Regions from separate parts of the Homo sapiens genome. Here all the other regions are linked to region 1. Evidence: fine-mapped expression QTL. A gene starts in region 1. Each other region holds a variant in brackets. All regions are shown on one strand. Distances are from middle to middle.

Region 1 (5,000 bases):
ACTGGTAACAATTCCACTTACATGAAATATCTAGAATAAGTAAGTTCATAGGGACAGAAGGTAGATTAGAAGTTACCAAGGGCTAGGGGAAGGAGAAAATGAGGAGCTATTGCATTACTGGGGCTCAGGACACACCACTTCAAAGTATGACTGCAGGAGGCTCTTGAAATATACTTCTTTGGCATATTTTAAGCTGGTTATTCTGAGAAACTGCTGATACAGGAATAGCTCTGAAAAGCTCTCCTTTTGTAAAAAAGAAAGGCATTTATATCTTAAAAGAAAATCTACATTAGTAAAATGATCTATATTAAAAGAGGGCTGCTCCAGACAACTTTTATTATCTAAGAACTTTTAATCTACATAGCAAGACAACCTCTATTCACCAAACAGCTCCTCTCCTCACCCTCCCATAACTTGTGTTATCACCATCACCCAGAAGCTCCAAGCTCTTTTCCGTAGCTCAGGATGTTATACAGGCTTCAATCATCTGACCTTTCTTTGAGTCTCATATATTGTGGGACTCCTGAGTATACATATGTAATTAAATATGGGTTTTCCGCTGGTAATCTATTTTATGACTATTTAATTCATAGGCTATTTAATTCATAGCCCAGCCAAGGAAACTAGAAGGGTGGAGGCAAGCCATCTTTCCCTCCCCTATGGTTTAAAGAGTACAGAGTTTCTGGAGTAATGAAAAAGTTCTGGAAATAGATGGTGGTGATGGTTACACAATATTGTGAATCTACTTAATGCCACTGAATGGTACACTTATAAATGGTTAACATAGGAACTTATCCATTAGGTATATTTTACCACATTTTGTAAAATACAAAAACAGGCCGGGCATGGTGGCTCATGCCTGTAATCCCAGCACTTTGGGAGGCCGAGGTGGGTGGATCACGAGGTCAGGAGTTAGAGACCAATCTGGCCAACATAGTGAAACCCCATCTCTACTAAAAATATAAAAAATAGCCAGGTATGGTGGCGTGGCCTGTAATCCCAGCTACTCGGGAGGCTGAGGCAGGAGAATGGCGTGAACCCGGAAGGAGGAGGTTGCAGTGAGCCGAGATCGCACCATTGCACTCCAGCCTGGGCGACAGTGTGAGACTCCGTCTCAAAAACAAACAGATAAACAAACAAACAAAAAACAAAGCAAAACAAACAAACAACAACAAAAAAAAACCAAAGTGCTTAATACAGTACCTGGCACATTTGAAGTGCTCATAAATGTTACCTAGTATTGTTAAGTAATGTTATTCTTAGTTGTAATAATGTTTATAAAAGTTACTGTAATACGGTGTCCTCTGTACTTTCATGAAGGGGAGTAAAAGGGCCTGAAAGGCAGCAGAGCAAGAAACCCAAGTAGTTCCTTTGTCGGGGGAGGTGGGAGGTGGGCAGGAAAGGTGTGGCAAGAGAAGGGTTCGTTGGGGAGGCTTCCTTAAGCAGAAACCACATGAGCTGGGAGGCCTTGGCAAAGATACCTCTTCAGTCTGAGCCAGTTTCTCACCTCGGATCTGGGAAGTTGGTTTTAGTTTTGCCGTGCCTGGGACATGCCCCTGGCTCCAGGCCAGCGCAACAGGGGTACTACCTCCATCCTCCCTAATCTGAAGTCCTGCATCTGAGGCAAAGTTGAGGCAGGGCTCGAGGGTGGGCGGAAGGGCCCAGGCCCGGAGGCCACTGACCCTTCTCACCTTGCCCAACTGCTCAGTGGAGAAACCGCAGCCCAGCGAGGCCGCCCCAACTCCTCCGTGTCCTCTTTTCTACTCTATCCTACCCTCCCTTCCCTGCCCCACCCGAGACGGTCAGGACCCTGGTGTCTGGACTTCCCGCTTTGTGTCACTCTCTAGGGTACTTGACCAAATCCTCCGTTAGACCCTCTCTTCCCGCCTCTCCCCACCACAGCAAACCAACAAAGCTTAACCCCATCATCCCCTAACCCAATAGTACCTCTGTAGGGCTGGGGCTGGGGCTGGGCTGGCGGCCTTCAGAGGGGGTCTCGGGGGGAGGCATGGTGGGCTCCTGGGGCCGGGCGGGGTCCTGCTGGGGCCTCGGAGATCGGGCGGGTGCAGGCTCCATGGACCCCAGCTTAGTTTCGATTCTCGGTTTAGATCTTGGAGTGCGTGAAGAGAAGCTGAAGGGGAGGCGTGAGCCAGTTGGCTGAGTCCCTTGAGCTGTCCGAAAGGGGAGGTGCCGGCTCAGGGCCCGCCTCTGGAGAGGAAGTGAGACAGAAGCTGGGGGCGGTTCTAGGGGGCAGAGAGGCCGACTGTGGGTTTTAAAGACACGCCCAGAGCGGGGAGGAGGTAGAGGCGGAGAGCTGCAGACCTACCGCTGACTTACGGTAAAGCGGGAGAGGTAGGGCAGAGCTGCAGGGGGGCAGCCCTGCTCCCGGCTTTGATCCATTCATCCGTTCACACTGGCACTGCTTCGTGCCACGTCCTGCCGGGAGCTGGGCGTACAAAGATGAGCCACACGCAGCCCCTGCTTTCTAAGAGCCGTAGATGTAATGGAAGAGCAAGCCTGCAAACGGAGACATTCTGGAAAGGAGAGCCCACAGCTGGGACCTGCAAAAGCAGTGGAAATTCACCAGGGATTTAGGGTTGTAGGTGGTGGGGTACGGGGGACACTTGAAACAGAAAAGATAGCTCTTGCAAAAGCCTGTTTGGGAACTAATTTTGGCCATTTTCAGATTTAAGAGGGAATTCATGAGAAATGATACCCAAGGAGTGTGCTAGGACAAGATCCTAGCTGAGGAGATTGAACCAGTTCTGTGAGTGATGGGAAGTTGCTGAAGGATTTGGAACCAGGGAACAACACGATCAGCTGTGCATGATGGGACAGTCACTCTGACAACCTAGGAGCAGGTGCCCTGGTCTAGGACAGTGGCTGTGGGATGCAGAGGAGGGACTTGATTCAGAGATCCTGGGAAGCCAGTGACTGGAGGTGAGGGAGCAGGATGATGCCTTGAGTGACAGCTGGAAAGGCTGGTGGATCTGAGGTGGTGGGGGCAGGAGGGAGGGGGAGAGCTGGAGAGCGGGTATGAAGAGGGTGAGGGGAGAGCCAGCTAGGTCTTCGCCAATGGAAAAGCATGTCAGACTCCCAGCTGGTAAGGGGAAAGGGGCACAGTTCCAGGTGACCTCACTGGGTCAGCGCCCCGGCTTCAAACTTAAACCATCGCAACCACTGTGCTGGCTCCTGTGTACCCATTCCGTACTCTGTTCCAACTTAGAAACAGACTAGAAAGGATGATGATAGGGCCTGGCTCTTGTAAACCTTACAGTCTGCAGGGTGGAGAGCAGGGGTTGGGCAGATACGCAACTTCCTAGGGACTGTAAGGCCTCAGGAGCCTGCCCTTCCCTCCAGCCTGGTCAGTACTCCCAGGCCTTTAGAGAATCAGTCCATGAAAGCCAAATATGGTGGGCAGCCATCTGCACAAGGGACCTGGAAGTGGGCTATGGCAGGATGGGGCTTCGGAGGCCAGAGGCGATTGGCTGAGGAGGCAGAGCTGGGGAAGCTTTATTCATTTCTTTGCTTGCTTTGGAAGATAGCCTGCTCCCAGACTACCCCAAAGTCCTGTTGGAAGTTAACACTTCTCAAAGGAAATTCACGAGTTGCATTCAGGTTTTCTCAAGCCCTGGAGAGGCAAGTTAATTCCAGGTACCTGGATCAAGGGGCATGCTCTTTCTGGACCTGCAGGACTGAGGGCCTCACCTCTGTGGTGCTCTGGGGCCCCTGCCCTCATGTAGCTCTGTGCTATCCCCTTCTTCCTTACACTCCCATGCTCCCCGAAGTCTGCATGTGAAACTTCTTTCTTTTTGTGCCAAAGTTCAGGCCTTCCTACTCCACCTTGATCACGGTGACCTGGCCAGGCCATTACTTAACAAATAAGTATTGAGACCTGCCCTATGCCAGTCCCTGCTTGCTGGGCTGTGGGTTCACAAAGAGGAATAATTTGCAGACTATGTCCCAGAGAAACCCAAAGTCCAGATATGGCATGTCCTGCCTCCAGTGTGAGAGAAGGAGTGCTGAGAAGGCTGATATAGCATGTCCTTGATCCTGGAGAAGATTGGCTTCCTGTAAACCCTGATGAGATCTTGCTCTCTCGCTCCGACTGCAGTGCAGTGGCACGATCATAGCTCACTGCAGCCTCAAACTCCTGGACTCAAGAGATCCTCCCGCCTCAGCCTCCCAAGTGGCTGGGACCACAGGCAGGCATCCCACGCCAGGCTAATTTTTAAAAATTTTTTGTAGAGATGGGCTCTCACTATGTTGCTCAGGATGGTCCTGAATTCCTGGCCTCAAGCGATCCTCCTGCCTGAGTCTCCCAAATTGATGGATTATAGGAGTGAGCCACCGTGCCCAGCTTCCCCTCCAGCTTTTCTAGGGCTGAGTAGGAGAAGAGGGGAGGAGGCGATGACCCCAGCGGGGTCCGAGGAACGCCGATCACACCCAGTAGCCCTGGGCTGCAGTTCGGTCCTCCCAGCGCAGGGGGAGCCATGCGACGGCGGAAGCGGGCCCCGGCCGGCCTCCTCTTCCTGCGCCCGCGCCGCCGCGGGTGGCCGCGCGGGTGAAGCCGGAAGCAGCAGCCAGGAGGGCGGGGCCGCGTAGGGCCCACTGGCCAGGGAGGGCGCCGCGCGGAGGCGCGGGGCGTGTCTCCTGTCAAAAGCCATGCTCGGCAGGTCTGGGTACCGGGCGCTGCCCCTGGGTGATTTTGACCGCTTCCAGCAGTCGAGCTTCGGCTTTCTGGGCTCGCAGAAGGGCTGCTTGTCCCCGGAGCGGGGCGGCGTGGGGACAGGGGCCGGTGAGTGGCCGCCTGGCACGGCGGAGCCGGGGGGGACCGGCCGGCAACCCCCAGGCCCGAATCTCTGCCTCCGAGGAGTCGGCCGGCCCGGTGCCGTCGCACCCTACGAGGGGGGACTGAGAAAGGGATACGATGTGGAGAGGGGGCTGGACCCGGCGCCTGGTGCTAGCGCCGATCCGCCCTCCCTAGGGTCATGGGGCTT
Region 2 (6,410 bases), 24 kb before region 1:
ACAAGAGCAAAACTCCGTCTCAAAAAAAAGAAAGAAATAAATCAAGTCATATAATTACTTTGAACTTCCTCCTCTCAACGAACTTTCACTCAGAGCATTCCTCTAGGTGCATAGGCACAGATCAGATGTATTCTCTTTAATAGCTCTGGTATATCCCAGATGGGCCACAATTGATTCAATCACTGTCGTTTTGCTGGCATTCAGGTAATTTCCTGTTTGTGCATTTTCTTTCTTTCGTTTTCCTTTCCTTTTTTTTTTCTTTTGGTGCCAATATGGACAACACTTTAGTAATATCCAAGTTATATAGCCTAATCATGGAAGCTTTTGTTCCTATGAAATAGATTATAAATATAGGCCTGCTAGATCAAAGTGTTTGTATTTTAATATTTTTATTTGGTTATTTTTTTTTTGAGATGGAGTTTCGCTCTTGTTGCCCAGGCTGGAGTGCAATGGCACCATCTCAGCTTACCGCAACCTCTGCCTCCCGGGTTCAAGCAATTCTCCTGCCTCAGCCTCCCGAGTAGCTGGGATTACAAGCATGCGCCACCACCCCGGCTAATTTTGTATTTTTAGTAGAGACGAGGTTTCTCCATGTTGGTCAGGCTGGTCTTGAACTCCCGACCTCAGGTGATCCACCCGCCCCAGCCTCCCAAAGTGCTGGGATTACAGGTGTGAGCCACCGTGCCTGGCCTGGTTAATATATTTTAGCTAGCAGATACTTCCATAGCATTTATTGTGTCTCAGATACTATTATAAGCATTGGCAAATATTTACTCATTCAATCCTCCTGACAATCCAGTGGAATAGATACCATTATTATCCCCATTTTAAGGATGAGAAAACTGGTGCAAGAGGCAAAATAATTTGTTCAAGATCACACGATTAGTAAGTGGTAGAGTCTAGATGCAAACTGTAGTAGCAGAATAGTGGCCTCTAAAGATGTCCACGTGCAAATTCCTGAGACCTGTGAATATGTCACCTTACTATGGCAAAAGGGTCTTTGCAGGTGTTATTCAATTAAGGACTTTGAGATAAAGAGATTATTCTAGATTATCTGGGTGGGTTCAACGTAATCACGTGAATCCTTTCAAAGGAAAGGGCAGGGAGGCAGGAGAATGAGAGGAGATGTGATGTGATGAATGCAGAGGTGGGAATGTTGTGATGTTGCCGGCTTTGAAGACAGAAAGGGGCCATGCACCAAGGAATGTGGGCAGCCTCTAGAAGCTGGGAAAGGCAAGAAAACGTTCTCCCTGAGAGCCTCCCAAAGGAGCAAAGCCTGCTGACACCTTTATATACCTCAGTGAGACCTGTTTCAGACTTCTTACCTCCAGAACCATAACAGAATACATTTACATTGTTTTAAGCCCCTAAATTTGTGGTAGTTTGTTACAGCAGCGAAAGAAAATATAAAAACCCAGGCAGTCCAGCTTAGAGTCCATGTTCTTAACCATTACAAGGCTGCTTCTTCAAATATTACCAGGGAAAATACTGTTAGTTCCCCAGAAATATTGCTGTAATTTACTCTCACCGGCAGTGATAAGAATAAGTCTTGGTGGTGTGCGCCTGTAATCCCAGCTACTTGGGAGGCTGAGGTGGGAGAACTGCTTGAACCCAGGAGGTGGAGGTTACAGTAAGCCAAAATTGCACCACTGTACTCCAGCCTGGCCAACAGAGCAAGACTCCATCTCAAAAAAAAAAAAAAAAAAAAGGAATAAGTCAGCCCACCTGAGGCCAGAAGAAAGGGTCTCATCTGGGACTACACTGAGATCAACTTGTTCTGGAACCACCAACAGAGAGCCTACTAGCCAGCCAGACTGATACATAGTGCTCATCAATGCTACGTTTAATTAGAAATACTAAGCAATTATGAAAAGAACTAATAACTCTACAGAAGGCAATTTGGCAATACCCATCAGAATTACAAATGCATTTAACCCAGCAATCCTCTTTCTTTGGATCTGCTCTGCAGCTCTATCTCTACACATAACAAGATGATATCCATACAATATATTCACTGCAGCACAGTCCACAATAGCAAAGAATTAGAAGCCACCCACGTGTCCCTCACAAGGCAATTAGTTACATAAATTATGATCCACCCATACAACGGAATACTATGTAGCTGTAAGCCATTGAGGAAGCTCTTTATATACTGATAAGGAAAATTCTCCATGGAGAAATGAGGTTAATAATAGGAGTACTGGAAGGATTAAATGAGTTAATATATGGATAAAAGTTTGAAAAATGACTGGCATACAATGAGTGTTCAATAAATGCTAACTATTTGTATTATTATGATATATATTTTAAGTTAGAAATCAAGGTGCAGAAATGTGTGTATCAGATGCTACCTTTTGTGTAAGAATGGGGAAAAATAAGAATATCTTCATAGTTGATTGTATTTGAATAAATAAATATTAAAAGGACATGCAAATTAATAAAAGTGGCTATGGGATGGGTGGAATGAGGGTAGAGTAAGACATTCACTGCATACCTTTTTAGATTATGTTTGAGCCTTGTGAATGTATGAATGTATTCCTTTTTTTGAAATTAAAAAACAGAATACTAATAAATGTGGGCAATTCTATAGGGTATAGGAATAAAGGGAAGAGAATAAGAAACAGTTGTTATTTTCCCCCTTTGGATCTTGGACACTTGGGGAGAGGGGCTGTGTCTGATGTTGGATCCCCTTCCTTGGAGACAGGGTTCCAAGCCTGGAAGGGCACGCCTCAGGCAGCCTGGCTGGATAGAGAGCAAGACGTTCTGGATGGCCATAGCCTCCGCTGGGTCCTTTTTCTAAGCTTCTTTTGTCCTGAATGGGGTCTCCCTAGGGTGACTGGCCCCTGCTTTCCCTCTAGATGGAAATGGGCGGCAAGTGTCTGTGAGGTGGCTAGCCTGAATCAGACACCTGGGTCTAAAAGCCCCCAGCCCTCTGGTAAGACTGAGGTGCAGATCCTGAATCAAAGGGCTGCCACCCAGGGCCAGGAATGACCTTAGCCAAGCGGTTCCTTTACCTTCATTCAGAGGACACTCACTGAGTACCTGCTGCGTGCTTGGCACTTTGGAGGAGGCAGAGGTGAAGTGGGAAACTGCCCAGAAGGGCTCCGTGACAAGAACCCAGACTTAACCGTATCTTCAGAAAGGCGAAATAACATCTATTTGCTTCTGGAATACTCAAAACAATAAGCAAAAACACCACTAACTTAATAAGAAATTGCTCACCAAAGTGGCTAGATTACATAATAATTAAGAAAGAAAAATAGCATAATTCTATCTTAGCAAAGCAAATGAGAAGAAATATGGGAAAAAAATCCATCTTCCCATTCACAGCAGCTATTTAAAAAATTCTACAAAGCCATGATTGTGTGCCTATAGTCCCAGCTACTAGGGAGGCTGTGGTGAGAGGATTGCCTACACCCAGGAGTTCCAGGCCAGCCTGGGCAACTCAGCAAGAACTCCATCTCTAAAAAACTTTTTTTAAATTAAAAAAAAGAAGGTACAAAATACCTAGAAAATGACAAAAACCTACTAAGAGATAAGACTAAATATTATAAGATTATTAATTCTCCTTGAGTTAATAAACAGGTTTAAGGCAATTTAAATTATTTTTGAAACTTAACCAAAGTATTCTAAATTTCTTTTCTTTCTTTTTCTTTTCTTTTTTTTTTTTTTT[G/TG]AGACTGAGTCTCACTCTGTTGCCCAGGCTGGAGTGCAGTGGCACAATCTTGGCTCACTGCAATCTCTGCCTCCCTGGTTCAAGTGATTCTTGTGCCTCAGCCTCCCAAGTAGCTGGGACTACAGGTGTGAGCCACCATGCCTGGCTAATTTTTTTTGTATTTTTAGTAGAGCTGGGGTTTCACCATGTTGGCCAGGCTGGTCTCGAACTCCTGATCTCAGGTGATCCACCCGCCTCAGCCTCCCAGAAGTGCTGGGATTACAGGCGTGAGCCACCACGCCTGGCTAGGTTTCTAAATTTCATATGAAGGAACAAACAGATAAAATAGCTAAGAAAAAAATTTTTAATTTTATAGAGACAGAGTCTCAACATTTTGCCCAGGCTGGTCTCAAACTCCTGGGCTCAAGTCATCCTTCCACCTTGGCCCCAAAAGTGCTGCGATTTCAGGCCTAAGCCACTATGACCAGCTGCTAAGAAATGTTTGAGGAATCAGTGTAAGGAAGGGATAACACATTATAGAAATGCCATTATTAAGAGAATATGGTACTAGTTCAAGAGTCAAGAGAAGGATCAGTAGAACAGACCAGATAGGCCTGATGTAGTCCCTGGCATCTATAGAAATGTAATATTTTATATAACAAAGAAAGCAACCCATCTTTTTCTCTTTTTTCTTTTTGAGAGAGTCTCACTGTGTCACCCAAGCTGGAGTGCAGTGGCGTGATCTCAACTCATTGCAACCTCCACCTCCTGGGTTCAAGCGATTCTCCTGCCTCAGCCTCCCAAGCAGCCGGAACTACAGGTGTACGCCACCACACCTGGCTAATTCTTTTGTATTTTCAGTAGAGACAGGGTTTCACCATGCCGGCCAGGCTGGTCTCGATCTCCTGACCTCAGGTGATCCGCCAGCCCCTGCCTCCCAAAGTGCTGGGATCACAGGCGTGAGCCACTGCGCCCAGCCAGCAGCCCAAACTGATGGACATTAAAGGGGTTTTCAACAATTGGAATCAGAGAAATTGGCTAGGGAGGAGGGTAGGGGGCAGGAATGAAGTTAGAGCCTTGCTTCTTGTTTCATACCCATATATGCTTCCAATGAATCACAAAGTTAAATGTGTAAAATTACATCTCGAAGGAGAAAACACAGTGGACTATTTACTCTCACCATAGTAAAGACACTATAATTACTGAAGAAATAAAAGAAACCATACAATCAATAGATGCCACTGCCCGGCCGGGCGCGGCGGCTCATGCCTGTAATCCCAGCACTTTGGGAGGCCGAGGTGGGTGGATCACGAGGTCAGGAGATCGAGACCATCCTGGCTAACATGGTGAAACCCCATCTCTACTAAAAAATACAAAAAATTGGCCGGGCATGGTGGCATGTGCCTGTAGTCCCAGCTACTCAGGAGGCTGAGGCAGGAGAATGGCATGAACCCGGGAGGCGGAGCTTGCAGTGAGCCAAGATCGCACCACTGCACTCCAGCCTGGGCGACAGAGCGAGACTCCATCTCAAAAAAAAAAAAAAAAAAAAAAGATGCCACTGCCTAAAAAATTCAAAACTGTATATTTTTTTGAAAGATCTTCATGACTATTTATAAGAAAAGCAAGTTATACAACACTAAATGTTGTTCATTTTGTTTTAGATGATCACAGAGATAGCAAAAAGGAAAGGAAAAGGTCTAGAGTGATAGTAGTTTCCTCTTTCTCTCATCCCTCCTTTTCACCTATTTAGATTTTCCTAAACTTTCTATAATCAATTCTAAGTAAAGGAGTTTGGACTTTAAATAGGAAGCAATGGGGAACACTCAAAGAACATCCCATCTAGGTATTACAACAAAGCTCTTTCTCGTCTCTGGGATGTATTGTTTCATTTATCCCTTTATGATTATTCAGTGAAATAGCCACACTGTTAATTTTTTTTTCAGAGACAGGGTCTTGCTATGTTGCCCAGGCTGGACTTGAATTCTTGGGCTCATGTGATCTTCTCACCTCAGCCTCCTGAGTAGTGTATTTTATTTTATTTATTTATTTTTATTTATTTATTTATTTTGAGATGGAGTCTCGCTCTGTTACCAGGCTGGAGTAAAGTGGGGCAATCTCGGCTCATTGCAACCTCTGCCTCCTGGGTTCAAGTGATTCTCCTGCCTCAGCCTCCTGAGTAGCTGGGACTATAGGCGTGCACCACCACACTCAGCTAATTTTTGTATTTTTAGTAGACACAGGGTTTCACCATGTTGGCCAGGATGGTCTCAATCTCTTGACCTCGTGATCTGCCCACCTCGGCCTCCCAAATTGCTGGGATTACAGGCATGAGCCATCTCGCCTGGCCGAGTAGTGTATTTTAATAGAAGCCTCAACGTGTTTCCTGGGTTCTCAGTCTCCCCATCCTAAAGCTGTCCATGTCTAAACTGCTATGCCAAGAGTGGTATGTGTTAGCTCTTCCAAATTTCTAGCTACAAGGCCTTGAGCAAATTACCTTTTCTCTCTGAGTCTTAATTTCCCCACCTGTAGAATGGGAGTAATAATGCTTCCCTTATAGACTGTTACAAGCACAAAGACAGGCTGGTGTATGTGAAGGACTCAGCACAGTGCTATGTAGTCATTGGACATTCTGGAGCTATGAAAGAAGAGGGGGTATTACACATGGCACAGGACATCCCTGCTGTTGGGTGAACCTGTCAATGTCAGATTTGGGGTGTCCCCTCCCCAGTACAGATAGGCCACTATAGCCGCACCTGTT
Region 3 (6,410 bases), 34 kb after region 1:
GCTATGGCAGGGAAATATATTTTGGGGTTAAATATTTTTTCCTTGTCTCGTAATGTTATACCAGAGTCAGATTGAAAAGTAAGTCACAATATATAAATAAAACCCATCTGATGAGAATTTAGGATTTGTAGGGCATGACTCCCTAGATCCCTTAGATAGAAATTTGGGCAAAATCAAAAATTAGAACTTAGTCCTAAAAACTCATGGGATACCATTTATTGCAGTGCTTACAGAAAATCTTTGTGACATTGTTTAAGTTAAGATTTAGATAGGACAAAAAACACAGCCCATAAAAGGAAAAAAAACCGATAAATTGGCTCTTATCAAAATTAAAAACTTCCGCTCTTTAGAAGGTACTAGTAAAAAATGAGAAGACAAACGACAGATTGGGAAAAAATATTTGCAAAACATATCACTGATGAATAACTTGTATCCAGAATAGATAAAGAATTCTTCCAACTCAATAATGAGACAAACAAGCCAATTAAAAATGGGCAAAGGATCTGAACAGAAATTTCATCAAAGAAGAGATATCCTGGCAAACAACCACATGAACACATGCTCAACATTGTTAGTCACTAGGGAAATGAAAATTTAAACCAGAATGAAATACAGTCAGCCCTCGGTATCTACGGGTTCCACATCCACGGATTCAACCAACTGCACAGTGAACACACAGATAAAAAATATTGAAAAAAATAACAATACAACAATAAAAACAATACAAATAAAAACAATACAGCATAACAACGATTTACATAGCATTTAAATTATATTAGGGATCATAAGTAATCTAGAGATAAATTAAAGTAGAGCGGGTTATGTGCCTGGGTTATATGCAAACGCTGCACTATTTTATATCAGGGACTTGAGCATGCCCGGGGTTTCCTATTTTCAGGAGTCCTGGAATCAGTCCCCAGGAATATGGAAAGATGACTGCCACAGGATACCTACTAGAATGGCTTTTAAAAAGAGGATACAGGCCAGGCACAGTGGCTCATGCCTGTAATCCCAGCATTTTGGGAGATTGAGGCAGGCGGATCACGAGGTCAAGAGATTGAGACCATCCTGGCCAACATGGTGAAACCCTGTCTCTACTAAAAATACAAAAACTAGCCAGGTGTGGTGGCACGTGTCTGTAGTCCTAGCTACTTGGGAAGCTGAGGCAGGAGAATCGCTTGAACCCAGGGGGCAGAAGTTGCACTGAGCCGAGATTGCACCACTGTACTCAAGCCTGGCAACAGAGTGAGACTCCGTCTCAAAAAAAAAAAAAAAAAAAAAAAAAAAAAAAAAAAAAAAAAAAGAGGATATAATGTGTCTGGTGAGCATGTAGCCACTTTGTTTTTGTTTTTTGTTTTCAGACAAGATCTCCCTCTGTCACCCAAGTTGGAGTGCAGTGGCTAGACCATAATTCACTACAGCCTCAAACTCCTGGGCTCAGGTGATCCTCCCATCCCTGCCTTCTGAGCAGCTGGGACTACAAGTGCCCACCACCATCCCTAGCTAATTGTTGTGTTTTTTGTAGAGACAGTGTTTCACCATGTTGCCCAGGCTGGTCTTGAACTCCTGAGCTCAAGTGATCCGCCTGCCTTGGCCTCCCAAAGTGTTTGGATTACAGGCATGTGCCACCACCCCTGGTCAAATATCTTAAATAATGTACATTTCAAAATTATCAACAGAATAAATTCCAAATGTTCTTACTACAAAAAATAAGAACAGTATTTGAGGTGATGGATATGTTAATTAGCTCAGTTTGATTATTCAACATCATATTAATACATCATAACATCACTTCATACTCCATAGATACAACTGTTATTTGTCAGTTTACAATTAAAAATAAGATTAGGCCGGGTGCAGAGGCCCATGCCTCTAATCCCAGTACTTTGGAGGCCGAGGTGGGCGGATCACTTGAGAGACCAGCCTGGCAAACGTGGAGAAAACCTGTCTCTGCTAAAAATACAGAAATTAGCCAGGCGTGGTGGTGGGCACCTGTAATCTCAGCTACTCAGGAGGCTGAGGTAGGAGAATCGTTTGAACCCGGGAGACAGAGGTTGCAGTGAGCTAAGATTGCACCACTGCACTTCAGCCTGGGCAACAGGGTGAGACTGTCTCAAAAATGAAAAATAGGCCTGGCACGGTGGCTCCTGCCTGTAATCCTAGCACTTTGAGAGGCCAAGGCAGGCAGATCACAAGGTCAGGATTTGGAGACCAGACTGGCCAGCATGGCGAAACCCCGCCTCTACTAAAAATATAAAAAATTAGCCAGGCATGGTGGTGTGTGCCTGTAATCCCAGCTACTTGGGAGGCTGAGACAGGAGAATTGCTTGAACCTGGCAGGCGGAGGTTGCAGTGAGCCAAGATCACGCCACTGCATTCCAGCCTGGGCCACAAAGTGAGACTCAGTCTCAAAAATAAATAAATAAAAATAAAATTTAAATTAAAAAAGCATTATGTTAAGTGAAGCAAGCCAGATATAGAAGGCCACATACTATGTGGTTCCACATATTTGAGATTCTGGAAAAGACAAAACTACAGAAACAGAAAACAGCTTAGTGGTTGCCGGGGGCTGGAGGTGGGAGGTAGAAAACGGAGCACAAAGAGGCAAGAGGGAAGTCCTGAGTGATGGAGGTATTACATCTTCACTGTGGGGGTATTTATATCACTGCATATATTTGTCAAAACTCATCAAACTGTTCACCTAAAAAGGGTAAATTTTGCTGTATGCAGATTATTTCTTTGCCAGACACTGTGGCTCATGCCTGTAATCCCAGCATTTTGGGAGGCAGAGGCAGGAGGATTACTTGAGCTCAGAAGTTTGAGACCAGACTGGGCAACATGGCGAAACCCTGTCTCCGCAAAAAAATACAAAAAATAAATAAATAAAATTAGCCAGGCATGGTGACACGTGCCTCTAGTTCCAGCCACTTGGGAGGCTGAGGTGGGAGGATTGCCTGAGCCCAAGGAGGTCGAGGCTGCAGTGAGCCATGATCTGCACTCCAGCCTGGGCGACAGAGTGAGACCTCGTCTCAAAAAAATATGTATTTCTTAATATACTTGAATTTTTGTGAAGAAGTGGAAGGGGCAATGGCTGTGAATCAGAAATGAGATGGCCTCTGATGTCAC[A/G]TATCTGAAATAGGGTGTCCTCCAGCTGCAGCGATGATCTGTTCCCTGGCTGAGAAGCTCCCAGGCTGCTGCAACTCCAGCAGAGGGCAAGGTCTCTTTTTCTCACCTGGCACAGGGGCACTACCAGCTGGATCATGTCCCTTGGGCCCAGGATTCGGTTTCCCAGGGCACGACAGGCACTGTTTCCCAAGTTTTCGGGGGTATGCATGTTGATACAGCAAAGAGGGCATTTATTAGGACTTGCTTATTCAATCATGTTATCAAACCCTGCAGGGAAAAGGTAGAGAAGGTAGCCACCTACCATAAAAAGGAAAAAAAGCACAAAAAATACTTAAGAACTTCTCAGCAAGGAAAAGAAATAACAGCCGGGCATGATGGTTCACACCTGTAATCCCAGCACCTTGGGAGGCCGAGGCGAGTGGATCATTTGAGGTCAGGAGTTTGAGACCAGCCTGGCCAACATGGTGAAGCCCCATCTCTACTAAAAATAAAAAAATTAGCTGGGCATGGCAGCAGGCACCTGTAGTCCCAGCTACTCAGAAGGCTGAGGCAGGAGAATTGCTTGAACCCGGGAGATGGAGGTTGCACTGAGTCGAGACAGCGCCACTGCACTCTAGCCTGGCGACAGAAAGAGACTCAGTCTCAAAACAAACAAAAAAAAGAAATGATGAATGATCACTCTAACAGGATATTGTGGTTAACTATGTTGCCAGTCAACAGCAGTAATCCAAGCTGTAGCCTTTCTGCATATTTGCAAGCTTTGGACACCTGCTTCATTTTACTCTTTGCTTCCTGAGAGGGGGCGCTTAGGACCACAGAAGTGAATGTTGTGTCCAAATTGCCTGGACCCAGATATCAGGTTCCAGTTTTGCCCTAGCACACATCTGGTGGAGGGGAAAGCATGCCAAACACGGGCTGCATCTGGTATTACAATGGTACAGGATTCCACTGGTGGCATTTTATCCAGGACTTCTGTATTCACAGCCAGGAGTAAAATTGGTCTGTGGTTATCAGCGTGAGGGTGGGTGGCGCAGGATAGCAATCTTTATCAGAGTTTGGTGTTAGGATTAGCTTAATAAAATCAATTCAGAAGCATAAAATCAATTCAGCATTTTCCCCATATGCTCTGGAAGAGTTTACATAACACAGAAATTCACTGTTCTTCCAGTTTGAAATAACTCATGCTAAAACTCCCTAGGGCTGGTGTCTTTCTTAGAGATGATAATTTTTAAATTTTCTTCTGTGGTAATTGGTCTTTTTGTGCTTTTCACTCGAGTCAATTTTGGCAATTTAGAAATACTAGAAAATTATTATTTAATGTTGGGACACTCCAATTTATAAGCATGCACTAGTTTCTTCAATTTCAAAAGTCATCTCCATGGCTGTGTTCTTATCCCTTCTAATCCCATATTTTTCTATTAATATTTTGTTGACTAGCCGATGATTTATTTATTTATTTTTGAGACAGGGCTTCACTCTGTTGCCCAGGCTGGAGTACGGCAGCACAATCTCAACTCACTGCAACCTCCACTTCCTGAGCTCAAGCAATCCTCCCACCTCAGCCTCCCAGATAGCTGAGACTATAGGCGTGCACCACCAAGCCCCGCTAATTTTTGTGTATTTTGTAGAGACAGGGTTTCACCATGTTTCCCAGGCTGATCTCAGACTCCTGGGCTCAAACGATCCACCCACCTCAGGCTCCCAAAGTGCTGAGATTACAGGCATGAGCCACGGCACCCAGCCAGTTTATCTATTGTAATTTGCCCTCTCTCTCACCCATAAAGAACAATCTAAGTCTGAATTACACTACCACACTACTTCTAGGAGGAATTAGGCTTCTCACCAATCCTTTTCAAGCTGCGGTTTCCAGGAGCCACACATGATTCTAGAGGACTCGTGGAGGAAGGAGATGATGGGATGGTTTGAACAGTGTTCTTGCCATGTTTCAGAGCACAGACCTATGGCTTCTTTCCTGGTCCCACATGCCTTTGAGGATCTGGAGGAACCTATGCCCTGTCTCCAGAAATGTGCCTGTGTTGGAATTCTGGCTCTCCCATTCACTAGCTGACGGAACTAGGGCAAGTCACATGACTTCTCTGTGCCTCAGTTTGTCCATCTACAAAATGGGAATGACAGTGTCTCCCTCATAGAGTTCTTGTGAGGATTAAATGGGCTTAACCTTTGTAGAGCATTTAGAGCAGGGCCTGGCCCATGGCTAAGTGTTGAAGAAATTAGTGAGTGTCACTAATATTATTGGCATTCCCCTGCTAGGTCTTTTCCTCTTTCTCATTCCTAGGAGGTACTTGTGACTCCTCATCTTAAGGGCCAGAATCCAAAGCTGATTCCTTGAACCAAGGCACATGGCAGGGATGATGGAAGGTTGCCCCAGAGAGGAAGAGGAAAAGAGTGAGTAGTTAGAAGGGAGTGAAGACAGGCCGAGGAAAGAGGCTGGGAGAGTTCCCTGGGCTGGGGAGGTGGTGGCTATGGTTGTGGTGGTGGCTCTGGCTCTGCTAGTAACGAGGACAGTGCCTCCTGGCAGTGCCCTGGGGAGGTGGCGAACCTCGAGGGACATGGCTGCCCATGTGCCCAAGCTTTGCAGGAAGTGGAGACACCGCCCCTGGAGGAGAGTGAATCAGCCAGGGAGCGGTGACCAGGAGGACTAAAGACCACAGGACTCCTCTCTGAAGTTCTGAAGTTCAAGGTGTCTAGGGTGGGAGTAAATGATTCAGGACTTTGACTTTCCCACCTGGTAGCCAGGGGGCTCAACGCATATTAAACGTGATTTTGAAAAAGTTTTTTTTAAAGCTATTTCACATAAAAGGAGACCAGAATCCTTACCTGCTTCCTCTGCCTTCCATATGTTGAGTTTTGTCGTTAAAGCTTTTCCAGGACTTTGCCATCCTTCTCAGAAAAGCTCAGCTGCAACTTTCAGGGTGGTGTGTGTCACAGGCACCCTTGGGTCCCAGCATCTGGCTGCTCTCCTGACCCTTATGCATGGGCTTTAGCGAGGTTCCTGGGTGTGGTCAGTGCCTCTCATTCTCTCTGGCCAGCTGGTGCCAACCCTGGCCAGGTCTGCCCACGGGCACCGCCTGCATGACTCAGTCTGGGGGATGCGAGGGGAAGTTGCAGGGAGGTGTGCAGTTGCTTTCCAACAATGCTGTGGTTGTGGTGTGGATCCGGACGCAGCCGTGGTGAGGAATGGCTGGGGAGGGCCCATCCGTATGAGTAGCCGGCAGGGACTCAGTGCCTGGACATTCAAGGGGGTGTGGTCTCTCTTGCCTTGA
Region 4 (6,410 bases), 26 kb after region 1:
GTGCAATGGCACAATCTCGGCTCACTACAACCTCCGCCTCTCAGGTTCAAGTGATTCTCTTGCCTCAGTCTCCCTGGTAGCTGGGATTACAGGTGCCCACCACCATGCCTGGCTAATTTTTTGTATTTTTAGTAGAGATGGGGTTTCACCATGTTGACCAGGCAGGTCTCGAGCCCCTGACCTCAGGTGATTCACCCACCTCGGCCTCCCAAAGTGCAGGGATTACAGGCGTGAGCCACCGCGCCCTGCCAAAGAATAATATTTTTAATAAACTTAGTGTAGTAGCCTAGGTGACAGTGTCTTTAAAGTCTACAGTAGTGTACAGTATTGTCCTAGGCCTCCACATTCATTCACCACTCACTCACGGACTCACCCAGAGCAACTTCCAGTCCTGCAAGCTCCATTCATGGTAAGTACCCTAAACAGGTGTACATTTTAAATATTTTATATGATATTTTTACTGTGCCTTTTCTATGTTTAGCTATGTTTAGATACACAAATACTTATTATTGTATTATAATTGCCTACAGTATTCGGTACAGTCACGTGCTGTACAGGTTTGTAGCCTAGGAGCAATAGTCTATCTCTTATAGCCTAAGTGTGTAGCAGGCTACACATCACAGAGTGTGTAAGGACACTCTCTGATGTTTGTACAACATTGAAATCACCTAATGACACATTTTTCTGATGGTATTCCTGTGGTTAACAGATACATGACTGTGCTCCAAGAGTTAACATCTAGTCTACAAATTCTTTTCAAAAGTAATGAAATTCTTATGAACACTGCATTTAATAATTAAAGAGGCCAATAGAGAATTAATGACATAAATTAACAATCGATGACACTTTGTAGACATTTGATTAAACATTTATTAATTTGGATGATTCTGTAGTTTTTACATTTTGGAGCCAAGACTTTTCTCAGGTTTTAAACATTTATTTAGGTCCCTGAGAAGCTCATGGGCTTTCAGCATGTCCTCTGAGACCACTTTACCTGAAAGATAAGTGGCCTGATGTCACCTACCCATAGGAAAGCTATGAAGAATAAAAATTAGATACTAGATGAAAGCACTTAGCATAGTGTCTAGTAAACACTGAGCACCTAATTAGAAGTAGTAGATGTTAGTAAATGTATCTGCACACATGTACGCACAAACTCATTGATTCACTCAAACATTTTTTATTGGGCACTCACTATGTGCTGGGCAAGGCAATGTTCTAGGTGCCAAGGATATAGTAGGGAACAAACCCACCAAGAACCCTGTCCTTGTGGAATTTACATTCTAGTTGTGAGAGCTAGACATAAGCAATAAGCATTAAAAATCAGAAAGGAGGCCGGGTGCATTGACTCCTGCTTGTAATCCCAGCTCTTTGGGAGGCTGAGGTGGGAGGATAGCTTGAGCCCGGGAGTTTGAGGCTGCAGTGAGCTAGGACCACACCACTGCACTCCAAGCCTGGGCAACAGAGTGAGTCTCTGTCTCACACACATATATATATGTGTGTGTGTGTGTGTGTGTATATGTATATACATATAGGTATATACGTACGTATATACATATATATATATAGAGAGAGAGAGAGTGAGAAACAGAGAGAGAGAGAAAAATAAGAAAGGCATACAGTATGTTAGAAGGCCATGAATGCCTTGGGAGAGGGCCTGGCATGTTCTAGAACAGCAAGGAGGCCATTGTGGCTGGGATGGAGAGAGGGAGGAGAGTGGCAGAAGACCAGGCCAGAGGGGAAATGGGGCCAGCTCATGTAGGGCCTGGTAGGCCACAGGAAGGGCTGTGTTCAGTGGGAGCCCCTGCAGGGTTCTAAGCAGAGGAACATGAGGGACTGAACATACACGTGCACCATGGCCAGACCCTGTGGAAACTAGAACTCTGAGCCTAACCTGCAGCAAGCTGCCCAGGAAACCAACCCCCTCATCTGGAATCCACAGCCCAGGATGCCAGTCTGCTATAAGTCAGACATGAAGGAAGCCAGATCACTATCTCCAGTAGCCATCCAGGAAGCAAAACAATAACTTCTCTAACAATCAGCCCCGAAAGGCCAGGACTTGATTAAAAACTGGCAGCTTCCCTAATTTTTGTCCCAGCTTCCAACTTAGGGCCAGCAAGAGAAAGCCAAATATGCACCCACCCCTCCCCAGCCAATCTCAGAATCCCCTCCAAATTATCCCACCCAGCTTCTCCAGGCCAATAGCCTCCAATCAGGGCACACCCCAAGCCTTCCCCCACCTCCTTTCCCGCACCCCTACCCCCGGCCCACCGACAATAAGGCTCAGCCTGATTTTGAGTCCCTACAAAAATGCAAGTGATGCTGGCTGACAACCTTGCTACAGCAAGCTCTGAATGGTTTTTGTTTATTTCTACAAATGGTAGGATCTGTCTTACGAAGCTGCTTTATTGAGAATAGATTGTATGTAAAAGCAGACCCATTAAGAAACTGTTCCAAGACTCCATCTCAAAAAAAAAAAAAAAAAAAAAAAAAAAAAAAAAAAAAAAGCGGCTGTTGCAATAATCCAGGCAAGAAAAGAGAGTGGTGTGGACCAGGCTGGTAGCAGGGCGGGAGGTGGACTCTGGTTATTTGTATTCTAAGTTGTTAATTTTGAAATAATTGTAGGGTCACAGAAGGTCACAAAGGAATGTAGAGAGAAGTCCCATGTTCCCTACCTCTCATGCGAACAACTCACATAACCAGAGTACAGTATCAAAACGAAGAAATGGAACATCGGCACAATCCATTGAGTTTATTCAGATCTAACCAGTTATGCACGCACCCATTTGTGTGTGTGTTTGTGTGTGCCTGTAGGAAATGGGAAATCATGTATATAGTGAGAAAAATAGAGTTGGCCTTTGTCCCTGGTTCTTGGCACAGATCTTTTAAAACCCTCCTAAAATTTCCTGAGTTACAGTGATGTTTTGTTATTCATAACAAACCCCTTTCAACCATACCTGAGCTTATGTTAATGAGGACCCTAAATAGTTTCTGGATACAGGCTGCTGATCAGAAAGACTAAGCCATGATTGATGATGAGAGAGTTGGAACTTTCAGCCTCACTCTCTGACCTCCAGGGAGTGGACAGTGGCTAGGGATGGAGTTCAGTCACCAATGACCAATGATTTCATCAATCATGCCTCTGTAATGGAACCTTCATAAAGTTCCAAAACAATGGAGTTTGGAGAGCTTCTGGGTTGGAACACATGGAGATGCTGGAGGGGTGACGCCCAGAGCAGGCAGGGAGGCTCTGCACACCCACCCTACAATACCCAGTCCTATGCATCTCTTCACTTGGCTGTTCCTGAGTTGTATCTTTTACAATAGACCAGTAATGGTGAAGTAATGTGTTTTTTTGAGTTCTGTGAGCCATTCTAGCAAATTATCAAACCTGAGGAATGGAGGTCACGGGAACCTCCAAATTTGTAGTTGGCTGGACAGAAGTGTGGGTAACCTGGGGACCCAGTACTTGTGACTGGCATGTGAAATGGGGGTAGTTTTGTTTTGTTTTGTTTTG[T/CT]TTTTTTGGAGACATCGAGTCTCACTCTGTCACCCAGGCTGGAGTGCAGTGGCACGATCTCGGCTCACACAACCTCCGCCTCTGGGTTCAAGCAATTATCCTGTCTCAGCCCCCCAAGTAGCTGGGATTACAGGCACTCGCCACCACTCCTGGCTAATTTTTGTACTTTTAGTAGAGATGAGGTTTCACCATGTTGGCCAGGCTGGACTCGAACTCCTGACCTCAGGTGATCCGCCTGCCTCGGCTTCCCAAAGTTCTGGGATTACAGGCATGAGCCACCACACCCAGCCATTTTTTTTTTTTTTGAGATGGAGTTTCACTCTTGTTGCCCAGGCTGGAGTGCAATGGCGTGACCTCAGCTCACTGCAACCTCCACCTCCTGGGTTCAAGCAATTCTTCTGCCTCAGCCTCCCGAGTAGCTGGGATTACAGGTGCCCGCCACCAGGCCTGGCTAATTTTTGTATTTTTAGTAGAGACAGGGTTTCACCATGTTGGCCAGGCTGGTCTCGAACTCCTGACCTCAGGTGATCCGCCCGCCTCAGCCTCCCAAAGTGCTGGGATTACAGGTGTGAGCCACTGCGCCTGGGAGAAATGGGGGTAGTCTTATGGGACTGAGCCCTTCAGCCTGTGGAGTCTGACACTAACTCCAGGTTAGTATCAGAATAGAATTGAATTATTGAACACCCAATTGGTATCACAGAAGCAGAAAATCGATTGGTGTTGGAAATGATACCACTTATTTGGTATCAGCACAAAGACCACAAAAAAGCTTTTTTTTTTTTTTTTTTTTGAGACAGAGTCTCACTCTGTTTTCAGGCTGAAGTGCAGTGGCACAATCTTGGCTCACTGCAACCTCCTCCTCCCGGGTTAAAGCAATTCTTCTGCCTCAGCCTCCTGAGTAGCTGGGATTACAGGCACACACTGCCACACCCGGCTAATTTTTGTATTTTTAGTAGAGACGGGGTTTCACCGTGTTGGCCAGGTTGGTCTCGACCTCCTGACCTCGTCATCCCCCCACCTCAGCCTCCCAAAGTGCTGGAATTACAGATGTGAGCCGTCGCACCCAGCCAACCACAAAGTAGCTCTATGTAAATTTGCCCTATGTGTAGCCTGGAGTAGCCACCAGAATGACCGAGGTGCTCAACTGTACCATCACCACAAAGCCTCTCGTGTAACCCCTTTACAGCCACACCCTCCCCTCCCTTCTGATATGGTACTGATCTGGGTCCCCACCAAACCGGGTGGAGTTCTCATGAATGGATTAGCACCATGAGATCTAGTTGTTCAAAAGTGTGTAGCACCTCCCATCTCTTTTCCTCCTGCTCTGGCCATGTAAGTGGTGCCTGCCTCCTCCTTTGCCCTCCCCATGGTTGTAAGTTCCCTGAGGCCTCCCCAGAAGCTGAAGCCACCACGCTTCCTGTACAGACTGCAGAACCATGAGCCAATTAAACCTTTTGTCTTTATAAATTACCCAGTCTCAGGTATTTCTTTATAGAAAGAGGAGAACGGACTAATACACATTCCTAACTCCTGACAACCACTAGTCTATTCCCTCTCTAATTATATTATTTGCCGTGTAAATAGAATCATGCAGTGATGTATCCTTTTGAGGCTGGCTTTTTCACTCAGCAAAAGTTCATCCAAGTTGTTGCTTGTACCAATAGTTCATTCCTTCTACAGCAGAATAGTATCCTGTGGTATGAATATACCATAGTTTGTGAGTATTTTCTGGTTTAGGGCTATTATAAATAAAGCTTCTATGAACATTTGTGTACAAGTTCCACCATGAAAATAAGTTTTCATTTCTCTGGGAAAAATGCATGACAGTGCAATTGCCGGGTTTTATGATAAGTCCATTTTTATTTTTGAAAGGAACTGGTTATATTTTGAACATGGGGCCAACAGGATTATCTGACAAATTGAACGTGGGTTTGAGAGAAAAGAGGAGTCAGGGATGGTTCTAAATGAAAGCATGCTGGAACACAGTAAGGGCTTGGTAAATGTCAGCTGCACAAGTGGTAGCAAATACAGCTGCAATCATGAAAGAAATGAGAAAAACCACGAGGCACTGTAAGCCATGAGACATTGCCCTAGAAGGCATTTAGAGTCACTCATTTGCATATGTTAAAAGTGAAAGAGAAGAGTGTTTTATTTCCTCTTAGGATATAGAAAAACCACAAGGGAACATCATTCCCATTCTTTTCTGGGGGGGCTCCAGTGATCATCCCACCTCAGCCTCCTGAGTAGCTGGGACTACAGGCTCCTGTCGCCATGTCTGGCTAATTTTTTTTTTTTTTTTTTTTTTTTTTTTGTAGAGACAGGGTTTCCCCATGTTGCTCAGGCTGGCTGGTCTTGAACTCCAGGGCTCAAAGGGTCCACCCACCTCACCCCCGAAAGTGCTGGGAGTACAGGAATGAACCACCCCGCCCCCCGACTCTAACAATAACAAAACACCAGATAATTTGCAAAACCATAATTTCTTAAACCAGTCAGATAGCTGAGGTGGCAGGCAACCAAGAGAACTGAATTCCAAAGAGTGACAAGCCCCTCCAAGGAAAGGCAAGACCAACTGTCTTGGGCAGAGCATGTGGTGGGCAGGAGGGAGTCTGCCCTGCCTTCTGAGCTTTTTGCACAGGCCTTCACTGCAGGAAAAAGACTGGAGGCAGAGGGGGAGCCGGGAGAGACCCCTCCCCCTTGCTGGTGGCACAAGCACTCAAGCGGTGATTGACTGCTGTGCAGCGACCCCCACCTGCTTCCCCAGGACGATTCTCTCTGGGCAAAACCACGTGGGAGGCTGCACTCTCTGGCCCCAGGGCTGCTGCGGGAGAGGCAGAAACGAAGATCCACTGCTTCTGGGGCAGGATCAAAGTAAACACCACTTGCCCCTGTGGGA

What was found. PIP is the estimated chance that this variant, and not a neighbour inherited with it, causes the effect.
Region 2: its variant is fine-mapped to the expression of PML in whole blood (INTERVAL, PIP 0.96).
Region 3: its variant is fine-mapped to the expression of PML in whole blood (TOPMed, PIP above 0.99).
Region 4: its variant is fine-mapped to the expression of PML in whole blood (INTERVAL, PIP 0.93).

The regions. Positions count from the first base shown.
Region 1 is chr15:73,991,889-73,996,888 of GRCh38, reverse strand. It overlaps PML (PML nuclear body scaffold), which reads right to left and starts at 2,173. Exons shown (of 9, transcript NM_033238.3): 1 at 1,948-2,173. The coding sequence starts at 2,076. STOML1 (stomatin like 1) reads left to right here and starts at 4,594. Exons shown (of 7, transcript NM_004809.5): 1 at 4,594-4,798. The coding sequence starts at 4,666. RefSeq lists an enhancer at 1,591-1,760 and a silencer at 4,368-4,927.
Region 2 is chr15:74,015,586-74,021,995 of GRCh38, reverse strand. All of the region lies in intron 2 of PML (PML nuclear body scaffold), which reads right to left. Among named protein-coding and RNA genes, the nearest start is that of PML, 24 kb to the right of the region's middle. RefSeq lists a silencer at 2,637-2,807. The variant G/TG (reference allele first, on the strand shown) is at 3,674.
Region 3 is chr15:73,956,784-73,963,193 of GRCh38, reverse strand. No RefSeq gene overlaps it. Among named protein-coding and RNA genes, the nearest start is that of LOXL1-AS1, 32 kb to the right of the region's middle. RefSeq lists an enhancer at 5,255-6,410. The variant A/G (reference allele first, on the strand shown) is at 3,127.
Region 4 is chr15:73,965,149-73,971,558 of GRCh38, reverse strand. No RefSeq gene overlaps it. Among named protein-coding and RNA genes, the nearest start is that of STOML1, 24 kb to the left of the region's middle. RefSeq lists a silencer at 5,484-5,633. The variant T/CT (reference allele first, on the strand shown) is at 3,518.